Linked DNA regions of Homo sapiens: region 1 is linked to region 2. Evidence: fine-mapped expression QTL. A gene starts in region 2. The other region holds a variant in brackets. All regions are shown on one strand. Distances are between the middles of the regions. Region 1 has its middle 5.7 kb from the start of DERL3. Region 2 holds the start of MMP11 (matrix metallopeptidase 11).

What was found. PIP is the estimated chance that this variant, and not a neighbour inherited with it, causes the effect.
Region 1: its variant is the best candidate, but not a certain one, in a credible set for the expression of MMP11 in whole blood (TOPMed, PIP 0.84).

The regions. Positions count from the first base shown.
Region 1 is chr22:23,842,511-23,846,890 of GRCh38, forward strand. No RefSeq gene overlaps it. Among named protein-coding and RNA genes, the nearest start is that of DERL3, 5.7 kb to the left of the region's middle. RefSeq lists enhancers at 1-257, 1,872-2,365. The variant C/G (reference allele first, on the strand shown) is at 2,100.
Region 2 is chr22:23,770,616-23,774,995 of GRCh38, forward strand. It overlaps MMP11 (matrix metallopeptidase 11), which reads left to right and starts at 2,234. Exons shown (of 8, transcript NM_005940.5): 1 at 2,234-2,363. The coding sequence starts at 2,256. It overlaps LOC107985577 (a long non-coding RNA gene), which reads left to right. Exons shown (of 3, transcript XR_007068022.1): 2 at 572-692; 3 at 1,254-1,762.

The DNA.
Region 1 (4,380 bases), 72 kb after region 2:
TGGGGGAACTGAGGCACGTAAGGATGCAGAACAGGGCCTGGGGCAGACCTCCATTCTTTCTTGTCCAGTCTGAGGCCCAGAACAGGCCACTCTGGAAATACTAGGTCCACTTCTCCTTGGACCCTTGAGCCCCTCCAGATAATTCTTTATAGAGGGAAGCCCTGGGCATCCCAAGTTCCCAGGGTCCTAGAGATGCAGGGTGTGCCTTACCCTAACATCAGGGTGGCAGACCTGTCGGCTGGGCCAGCCTTCTTTCTCCTGTGCTGAGGATGGTGGGTGGGTGGAGACCTGTGGTTCCTCGGCAAGGTGACAATGGGCTCTGCTCCCCATGCCACCTCCCTGGCATTGTGACGCTTCCTGCTGACTCCCAGAGGACACCTAGATCTCCTGTCCAGGCCCTCTCAGTGTCTGTAGGCAGGATAGCGCCCTCTGCATACTCTCCCCACCCAGCTTTCCCCCTCACTGGCCTCACACACTAGGAGGGGCCATCCTCAGCCCCCAAGCCTGGAGTCAGCTCTATACCCTCAGCCCCATGTTGCACTTTTTTTTTTTTTTCCTAGAGACAGGGTCTTGCTCTGTTGCCCAGACTGGAGAGTAGTGGCGTGATCACAGCTCACTGCAGCCTCAACCTCTTGGGCTCAAGTGATCCTCCCACCTCAACCTCCCAAGTAGCTGGGACAACAGGCATATGCCACCATGCCCCGCTAATTTTTTAATTTTTTTGTAGAGATGGCGTCTCACTGTGTTGCTTAGACTGGTCGCAAACCCCTGTCCTCAAGCAATCCTCCCTTGGACTCCCAAAGTGCTGGGATTACAGGCGTGAGCCACCACGCCCGGCCCCCTATGTCACACTTGATGCTCCCATGGAACTCTCTAGTCCTTTCCCTTCTCTCCTATGCCTTACCACCACCACTAACTCTTATTCAGGCCTCAGGTTCTCTCCTCTAATATTGTCCCAGCTCTCTGAACTATTCATTCTGTTAAAAAAAAAAAAAAAAAAAAGAGTAAGGCTGGGTGTGGCGGCTCACGCCTGTAGTCCTAGCACTTTGGGAGGCTGAGGAAGGCGGATTGCCTGAGCTCAGGAGTTCAACACCAGCCTGGGCAACATACAGAAACCCCATCTCTACAAAAAATACAGAAATTAGCCAGACGTGCTGGTGCATGCCTGTAGCCCCAAGTGGGAAGGGGGAGAGAGCCAGGGGGCTGAGGCTGGAGGATCGCTTGAGCCTGGGAGGTCAAGGCTGCAGTGAGCAGAGATTGCACCACTGCACTCCAGCCTGGGTGACAGAGTGAGACCCCGACTCTTAAAAATATTTTTTAAAAAATGTTTCCTGGCTGGGCACATTGGCTCATGCCTGTAATCTCAGAACCCTGGGAGGCCAAGGCCGGTGGATCACCTGAGGTCAGGAGTTGGAGACCAGCCTGGCCAACATGGTGAAACCCTGTCTCTATTAAAGATACAAAAATTAGCCAAGCAAGGTGGTATGCACCTGTAATCCCAGCTACTCAGGAGGCTGAGGCACGAGAATCACCTGAACCCCGGGGGCGGATGTTGCGGTGAGCCAAGATCGTGCCACTGCACTCCAGCCTGGGCGACAGAACAAGACTCTGTCTCAAAAATAATAAAATAATAAAATAAATATGTTTCTTAAAAGCAAAATAAATAAAATTAAAAAAATAAGAGAGGAAGAGCAGAGGGTGAAAGTGCCTCCTACTCCAGGAAGCCCTCCCTGGTCACCTTCAAAGGGACCAGAGCTCACCTACTTCTGTTAGAGTCCTGAGCACTTAATTTTTAAATATATTTTATTCTAAAGGCAGTCCATGCCTGTTGTAACTAACCACAAGAATCAAACAAACTGAACGTTTGTGTACCTGCTGGTGCAGCTGTATTTTCTTCTTGATGACACATAGTGCCTTTTGGGCCCTGAGCACTTGTCCATTGGGGGACCTCTCCCCTCTTTGAGCACGGGGCCCACCCCCTTTGAGCACAGGGACCCCTGCAATTGCTGTGAGTAGGCTTCCAGCTAGCCCCTCCCAGAAACAGCTGTGTCCCCCTTGGCCCTTCCTGTCTGGGCCACAGGCTATTTTTAGCACTGAAT[C/G]CGGAACCCACATAGCAGCAGCTGCTTGTGGCCGGAGCGCAAGAACAACAAACCATCCAGGTGGGTTGTGTCAGGCTGCAGAGGGAGCGGCCTGGGCCTGGCCCTCTGAACCTGGTAGCAGAATCTGGACTTTCCAGGAATAAGCTGGTCTCTGGGTGGGATGGGGAGGGAGGAAGCAGAATGGGGCAGAGGATGGGTTGCACTAGCTAGGCCAGGATAGGGGAAGGGCCTGTGCAAAGGCCCTGAGGTAACTGGGGGAGAGGAAGGGAGCAGAGGAGAGAAGGTGAAGGAGGCAAGGAAGAAGAGTTGCTTGTGACGGGAGGGAGAAGCGGGGCCAGGCCAGGCAGAGGTGTGTCGGCCGTGGTCTCTGTCCTAATCAGATGAGCCGGGGAGGAGAGCGGTGGCCTGCAGTGGCTTGCATTAACAGCGAGGGAGTGGAAGGGTTAGGATGGCTGAAGCCACAGGCCTTAGTGAATGCTTGGTAGTGGGGGTGAAGGTAGGAGGGGTCCTGGCCTACCCAGCTTGGGGGACAGTGAGCCCCCACTGGGTGGAGACATGGGTGAATGGCCAGTAAGGGAGGGAGACCACTCGTTGAGTCAGGCAGGTGAGCTTGGGGTGCTGTGGGGTGGAAGCCCTCCCTGGCCTCTAGCCCAGTCCTCCCAGCTCCTTCCCTTCCGTGGCCCTGGTCATTCCTGCTTCATGCAGAAGGGCTGCAGTTGTCCACACAATGGCCCCTCTAGGCCTGGTTTCTGCTGCGGAGCTGGCACAGGCAGGGGCTTGGTAAACAGGGAAAAACAGGGAAACTTGTGAAGACAGAGACCTGGACTCCAGGGCTGGAAATGCAGCCTCGGGGCTGGCATTGTGACCTGAGCACTCCCTTCCCTCTCTGGCTCTGTGTCCCTCTCTGTGAGATGCGGGTCAGAAGGGTCCATGTGTAGAGTCTCTTTCAGCTCCAAGGTTGTACTCTGATCTATAATGGGGGTATCAGAGATTTCTGGGTGGAAGCCCCTTCCTGTAACAAACACAGCTGGCCTCCCCATCCAAGGCCCATCTCTGCTATGAATAAGTGAATGCTTATGAGCAAGAATGCACCAACAGAGGAAGCTGGAGGGCCCCTGCCAGTCCTCTCTGCCGGATCTGTTCCTCGCTGTCTCCTCTCAGCCAGGAGCCTTCATGGGCCTATGGTCAGGAACAGCCAGAGAGGCCTGCAGGGCTGGGGAGGGAGTCGCTGTGGGTGCCTTTTTCCTGCAGGAGCTCAGCTTCTGGCCAGGGGAGGAGACACTGAATCCCATACCAAGCAGGGAGTGGAAATGCACTGGTGAGTGGTCCAGGGCAGCCGTGGGGCAGGAGAGCTCCTGATGAGGACAGGAGGAGGAGGGGATGTGCTAGGCAGGGACAAAGGCTTAAGCAAAAGTGGGGAGGCAGGAATGGGCCCGTGTGCTGCTCATGGACTAGGCAAGGACCTGTGAAGTGCGGGAGATAATAGCTGCTCAGTGATCTATAGCCAGACTGCACCATGGCTTTTATTAAACTCACCGAACCCTCATCACCACCTGATGAAGTAGGTTACTATTACGGATGAGAAAATAGGCTCAGAGAGGTTCAGTAAACTGCCTGAGGACACACAGCTAAAGAGGCACAAAATCAGCAGTCCTGGCTTTGCCACCATAACGGGTGATGGAAGGGACCCATGCGGAGGAAGTGAGCTATCCCTGACCCCATCACTGGGGCACAGGGGAGTGAGGGACATCACCAACCAGCTAATGCTGTGCAGCCCCAGACCCTTTTCCAGCTCCGGTTTGGAGGTGAGAACTTTTTGCAGCCTCTGGGCTCCCAGGGAGCGTCTCCAACATGAGACTCCACTCCTGAGCTGCCTCCCTGCTGTCTGGGCCTCGTTTTACTGTCTCTGACCCTTCATGGCTGATGAAACTGTCTCCATTCAGCCCTCAGCTGCGGGACCTGCCTGAGCCTGTGTCCTGACTGTCATGACCCAGAGCAATTGCCAGGAATTCCCACTTCCTGCTGTGGCCGCTGCCAGAATGTCAAAGCCACCTCCGGCCAAGCACCCCAGAGCTCCAGAGCATCTGGTGGGGGCTTCCCCCTCCCCTGCCTCAGCTATTTTCAAGCTCAGCACTGTGGGCGGTGTAGGGGGAGAAGCAGATTATCTGTTTGGCAGAGTCAGCCATATGGCAGGGCCAGGGATATGAGTTCACAGAGACAAAACCTGAGACAGCTCTGTCTTTGACTTCGAAAAAGCCTGGCGGAGTGGCGTGTGGCTGTA
Region 2 (4,380 bases):
GGAGGCTGAGGCAGGAGGATCGTTTGAGCCTGGAAGGCGGAGGTTGCAGTGAGCCAAGATCACACCATTGAGCAAGACCCTGTCTCAAAATAATAAAAGTAAATAAAAGTGAGTGACTTTAAAGAAAAGATTGCCTTTCAGGCGCGGTGGCTCACGCCTGTAATCCCAGCACTTTGGGAGGCCGAGGCGGGTGGATCACCTGAGGTCAGGAGTTCAAGACCAGCCTGGCCAACACGGTGAAACCCCATCTCTACTAAAAATATAAAAAATTAGCTGGGCATGGTGGCGGGCGCCTGTAGTCCCAGCTACTCGGGAGACTGAGGCAGGAGAATGGCATGAACCTGGGAGGCGGAGCTTGCAGTGAGCCGAGATCGCGTCACTGCACTCCAGCCTGGGCGACAGAGAGAGACTCCGTCTCAAAAAAAAAAAAAAAAAAAAGAAAAGATTACGAACAGTGTAGGTTGTAAAAATTACTGCTGTCTTACTTCTCCTCGCCCTCTAGGAGTCTCTGTGGAGTCTTCTTGAATAAGCTGTGAAACATTTCCCCACCCGCTTCCCTTTCTTGGCCCAGGCTTCCTGACCACAGCCTCACCTTTGAGCAGCTCAGAGCCCTGCCTGCCAGGATGCGAGCCACTGCCTGGATCGTGGCTCTGCAGGGCCACCCATGATGGAACAGGTCGCCTGGTGAGGTGGTGAGGCCCTTCATCATTTCAGGGGGTGTACAGCAGTACTGGGTAACCCCGAAAATCAGGGATGAGACTGAAGGATCCCTTCCAGAATGTGGACACAACCCCTCCTTTGAGTCTCACCTCCTTTCCTTCTTTTTTTTGAGATGGAGTCTCGCTCTGTCACCCAGGCTGGAGTGCAATGGAACAATCTCGGCTCACTGCAACCTCCGCCTCCCGGGTTCAAGTGATTCTCCTGCTTCAGCCTCCTGAGTAGCTGGGCTTACAGGTGTGTGCCACCACACCTGGCTAATTTTTGTATTTTTAGTAGAGACAGGGTTTCACCATGTTGGTCAGGCTGCTCTCCAACTCCTGACCTCGTGATCCACCTGCCTCGGCCTCCCAAAGTGCTGGGATTACAGGCATGAGCCACTGCGCCCGGCCTCTCGCCTCCTTTCTTTCAAGTCTGAGGTGGCTAGCCTGGAGGGGTCCCCAGGGGCTTGTTGGGCACTGACGAGGGGACACCCTGGGGGCCCAGTACTCCACTCAGACACCTCCCACAGCCTTCTGACAGCATCCTTCCCACAGCTGACCAGCTAGAGGACCTCCTGACCCCTCCACTTGTCTGCTGGTGTGGAAAAGCCTGGACCCTCCCTCTTGGAGCCTCAGTTTCCCTATCTGTAAACTTCGGTCTATCCCAAGCTGAAGAACTGGCCAGTCCCTGCCATATGCCTCACTTTCCCCTGGGACACATTTTAATATCCCTTTCCTGGCCAGGTGCAATGGCTTCCCCATGTAATCCCAGCACTTTGGGAGGCCAAGGTGGGCAGATCACTTGAGGTCAGGAGTTCGAGACCAGCCTGGCCAACATGGTGAAACCCCATCTCTACTAAAAATACAAAAATTAGCCAGGCATGGTGGCGCACGTCTGTGGTCCCAGCTACTTGGGAGGCTGAGGTAGCAGAATCGTTTGAACCTGGGAGGCGGAGGTTGCAGTGAGTGGAGATCACACCACTGCACTCCTGCCTGGGAGACAGAGTGAGACTGTGTCTCAAAAAATAATAATAATAAAAAATAAAATAATATCCCTTTCCTCACAGGGGCTATTGTGTCATCTTCTAGAAGGATCCGTTGAGGCTCTGAGGGGTGGGGGAACTTGCTTGTGGGTAGGACCACCTGTCAGAGGTCAGAGGTCAGGCCACCAAGGAGACCCAGTGGGATGCGCCTTCCAAAGGTGGGGGTACGGATGGGACCCATGAAACCTGACTCCTCTCAGACTCTAGCCAAGTCTAAGACTTTGGACGGCCACCACCCAGAGGAGAAACTGAGACCCAGAGCGGCACGGGTTGGCCAGGGTCACCCAGCACCAGATAGGGACTTTGCCAGCCCCGGGGCAGGACCCTGTCTCCGGCCCTCGACCCCGCTGGGCCGTACCCTCCCCGTTCACCTCCCCCACCCGGGCCGCGGCTGCTAGGAGAGTTCAGAACAAAAGGCGGCGGGGGGCGGGGCCGAGGCGGGCCGGGGGTGGGGCGGAAGCTATAAGGGGCGGCGGCCCGGAGCGGCCCAGCAAGCCCAGCAGCCCCGGGGCGGATGGCTCCGGCCGCCTGGCTCCGCAGCGCGGCCGCGCGCGCCCTCCTGCCCCCGATGCTGCTGCTGCTGCTCCAGCCGCCGCCGCTGCTGGCCCGGGCTCTGCCGCCGGTGAGTGCCCGCCACTCGCCGGCCGCTCCTCGCTGAGGGGGCGCCGGGCACGCGGGCTGGGCCCAGCGGCGGATCCGGACCGAAGGGGGCGCCCCGGGTGGCCTCCAGCGCCCGGTACCCGAAACGCTTTCTGGTTCCCTCTAGGCGTGATAGACAGCGAGCTTGCAGTCCCTGGGGGTGTGAAGGGGAGCCGGCGCCGGCATCGTTCGGGCTGGTGGGACGGGACTCCACGCTGGACTCACGCTTGCTCCCAGCGTGGGGACCTGCCTCTCGCGCTCCAGCCGCGGGTGCTGGAGTGTGCGTTGAAGGAAGCAGCAGAGGGAGTGGTAACAGGGCCCCCTATTCATCGCAGGGACAAAGCCGAGCAGATCCCAGGCAGGTGTCAGCCTGCAGGTGTGTGGCCGCAGTTAGTACACCTCCAGGTGTGCGGTGGGATGAAGGATAAAGGGAGAAGGGAGGGCAGCGCTGTGCTGCGGGAAATGGGGTCTAAGCCTGGAGATGTCCCCCGCGGGCACCTGCCGGCAGCAGTTTTGGGAGGCTTGGAGCCAGGAGAACATGAGTATGAAATAGTATGAGTGCAGTGTGTGTGTGACTGAGAGGTGGCTGTCAGAAAGAAGCGGGGAGAGAAAGGAAAGGGAGAAAATGTGTGCTCAGGAGAGGAGAAGAAAGCCCAGGTAAGAGAGGACAGCAGAGTGAGGAGAGGAGGGACTGTCATGGAGTGTGTGTGACAGCTTGCATGTGTCCCAAAAGCTGCCCCTTCCCTGGGGCGCTTCCAGGCACCAGTCACAGGGCCTGGGGCCAGAGCCTGGGCCACTCCACTCCACAGCGGAGGCATCCAGACAGCTCGGGCAGGGAAGGGAGCAGGAGGGTGTGACAGGCAGGAGTCTCAGGACTGGCCTGGTGAGGAGGCAGGCCTGGCCAGGCTGGGACCCTCTGTCCAGCCACTCTGGCTCTGCTCAGGGCAGCCTTGTCCTGTGCTGGCTATGGGAGCAGAAAGGGATGGGATGGGTGGGGTAGAGTGAATGGGGGGCATCTCAGTCTGGAGTCTTGCCTCCTTCCCAGCCCCTCTTGGTTCCTAGGACTTGGGACAGAGTCAGGAATCACTGTGGGTAGACATTGAACCACAGGTCTGGAAATTGGAGAGATCTGGGTTTGAACCATGTGACCCTGGGTGAATCCTGCCATGCCTCAGAATCTCACCCACTCCATCTCTAATGGGAGTGCAGGTGGGAGGGGGCAATGGTGCCTACTGCTGTGTCCACTGTTGAGCAATGAGGTGATGCCAGGCTCACTAGAAACACTGTCACCTGTAGCTGCCACTTTGACGCTTGTGCATGGTCAGTGCTGGAGCTGGGGGCCAGCTTGGGGTGGGGTCTGAGCTGGACTGTGGTCTGTCACTCTGCAAACACGCAGGGAGCATGTGGGGTCACCTCTGATGTGTTTATCCCCCGGCTGCCTTCAGCAAGGCTGGGAGAGCTCTGTAAATATTTATCCAGCCCAGTTCCCAGCTTTCAGGGTTGATGGAAGCCCTGCAGTCCGATGGATGGGACGAAGCTACCGTCCCTCCTGGAGCCAGCAGCAGAGGGGTGAGAATAGGAAGATTAGGTGGAAGCTTGAGGGAGAAGATATCCCTGCTTGCCACCTGGCTGTGTGAGTTGGGCAGGTTGCTTGACCTCTCTGAGCCTGCATGGTGATGCTCCCGTCTTCCTCCATAGCCTAACAAGTGCCCTCCTCGAAGTCTTGCCTCCCACCGACATCAGAAGGCATAGCTATGATTAATTATACCCACTAGACCAACTGCAAACTGAGGCCCAGAAAGGGGCACAATGAGCCCAGCCTTTCGCAGTGTTTCCTGGCACCCTGGGGTCCTCCCTTATCTCCCCTCTATCTGGTGCCTCCCATTTTCTGGATTGCAAGTTGACCCCAGGGCGGGGTTGACTCCGAGTCTCTAAGCTCTGCCAGGACACTGGGTCAGCTGAGAAATTCCTTGAATGTGTCTGCAGCTGAGGTTTGGTGT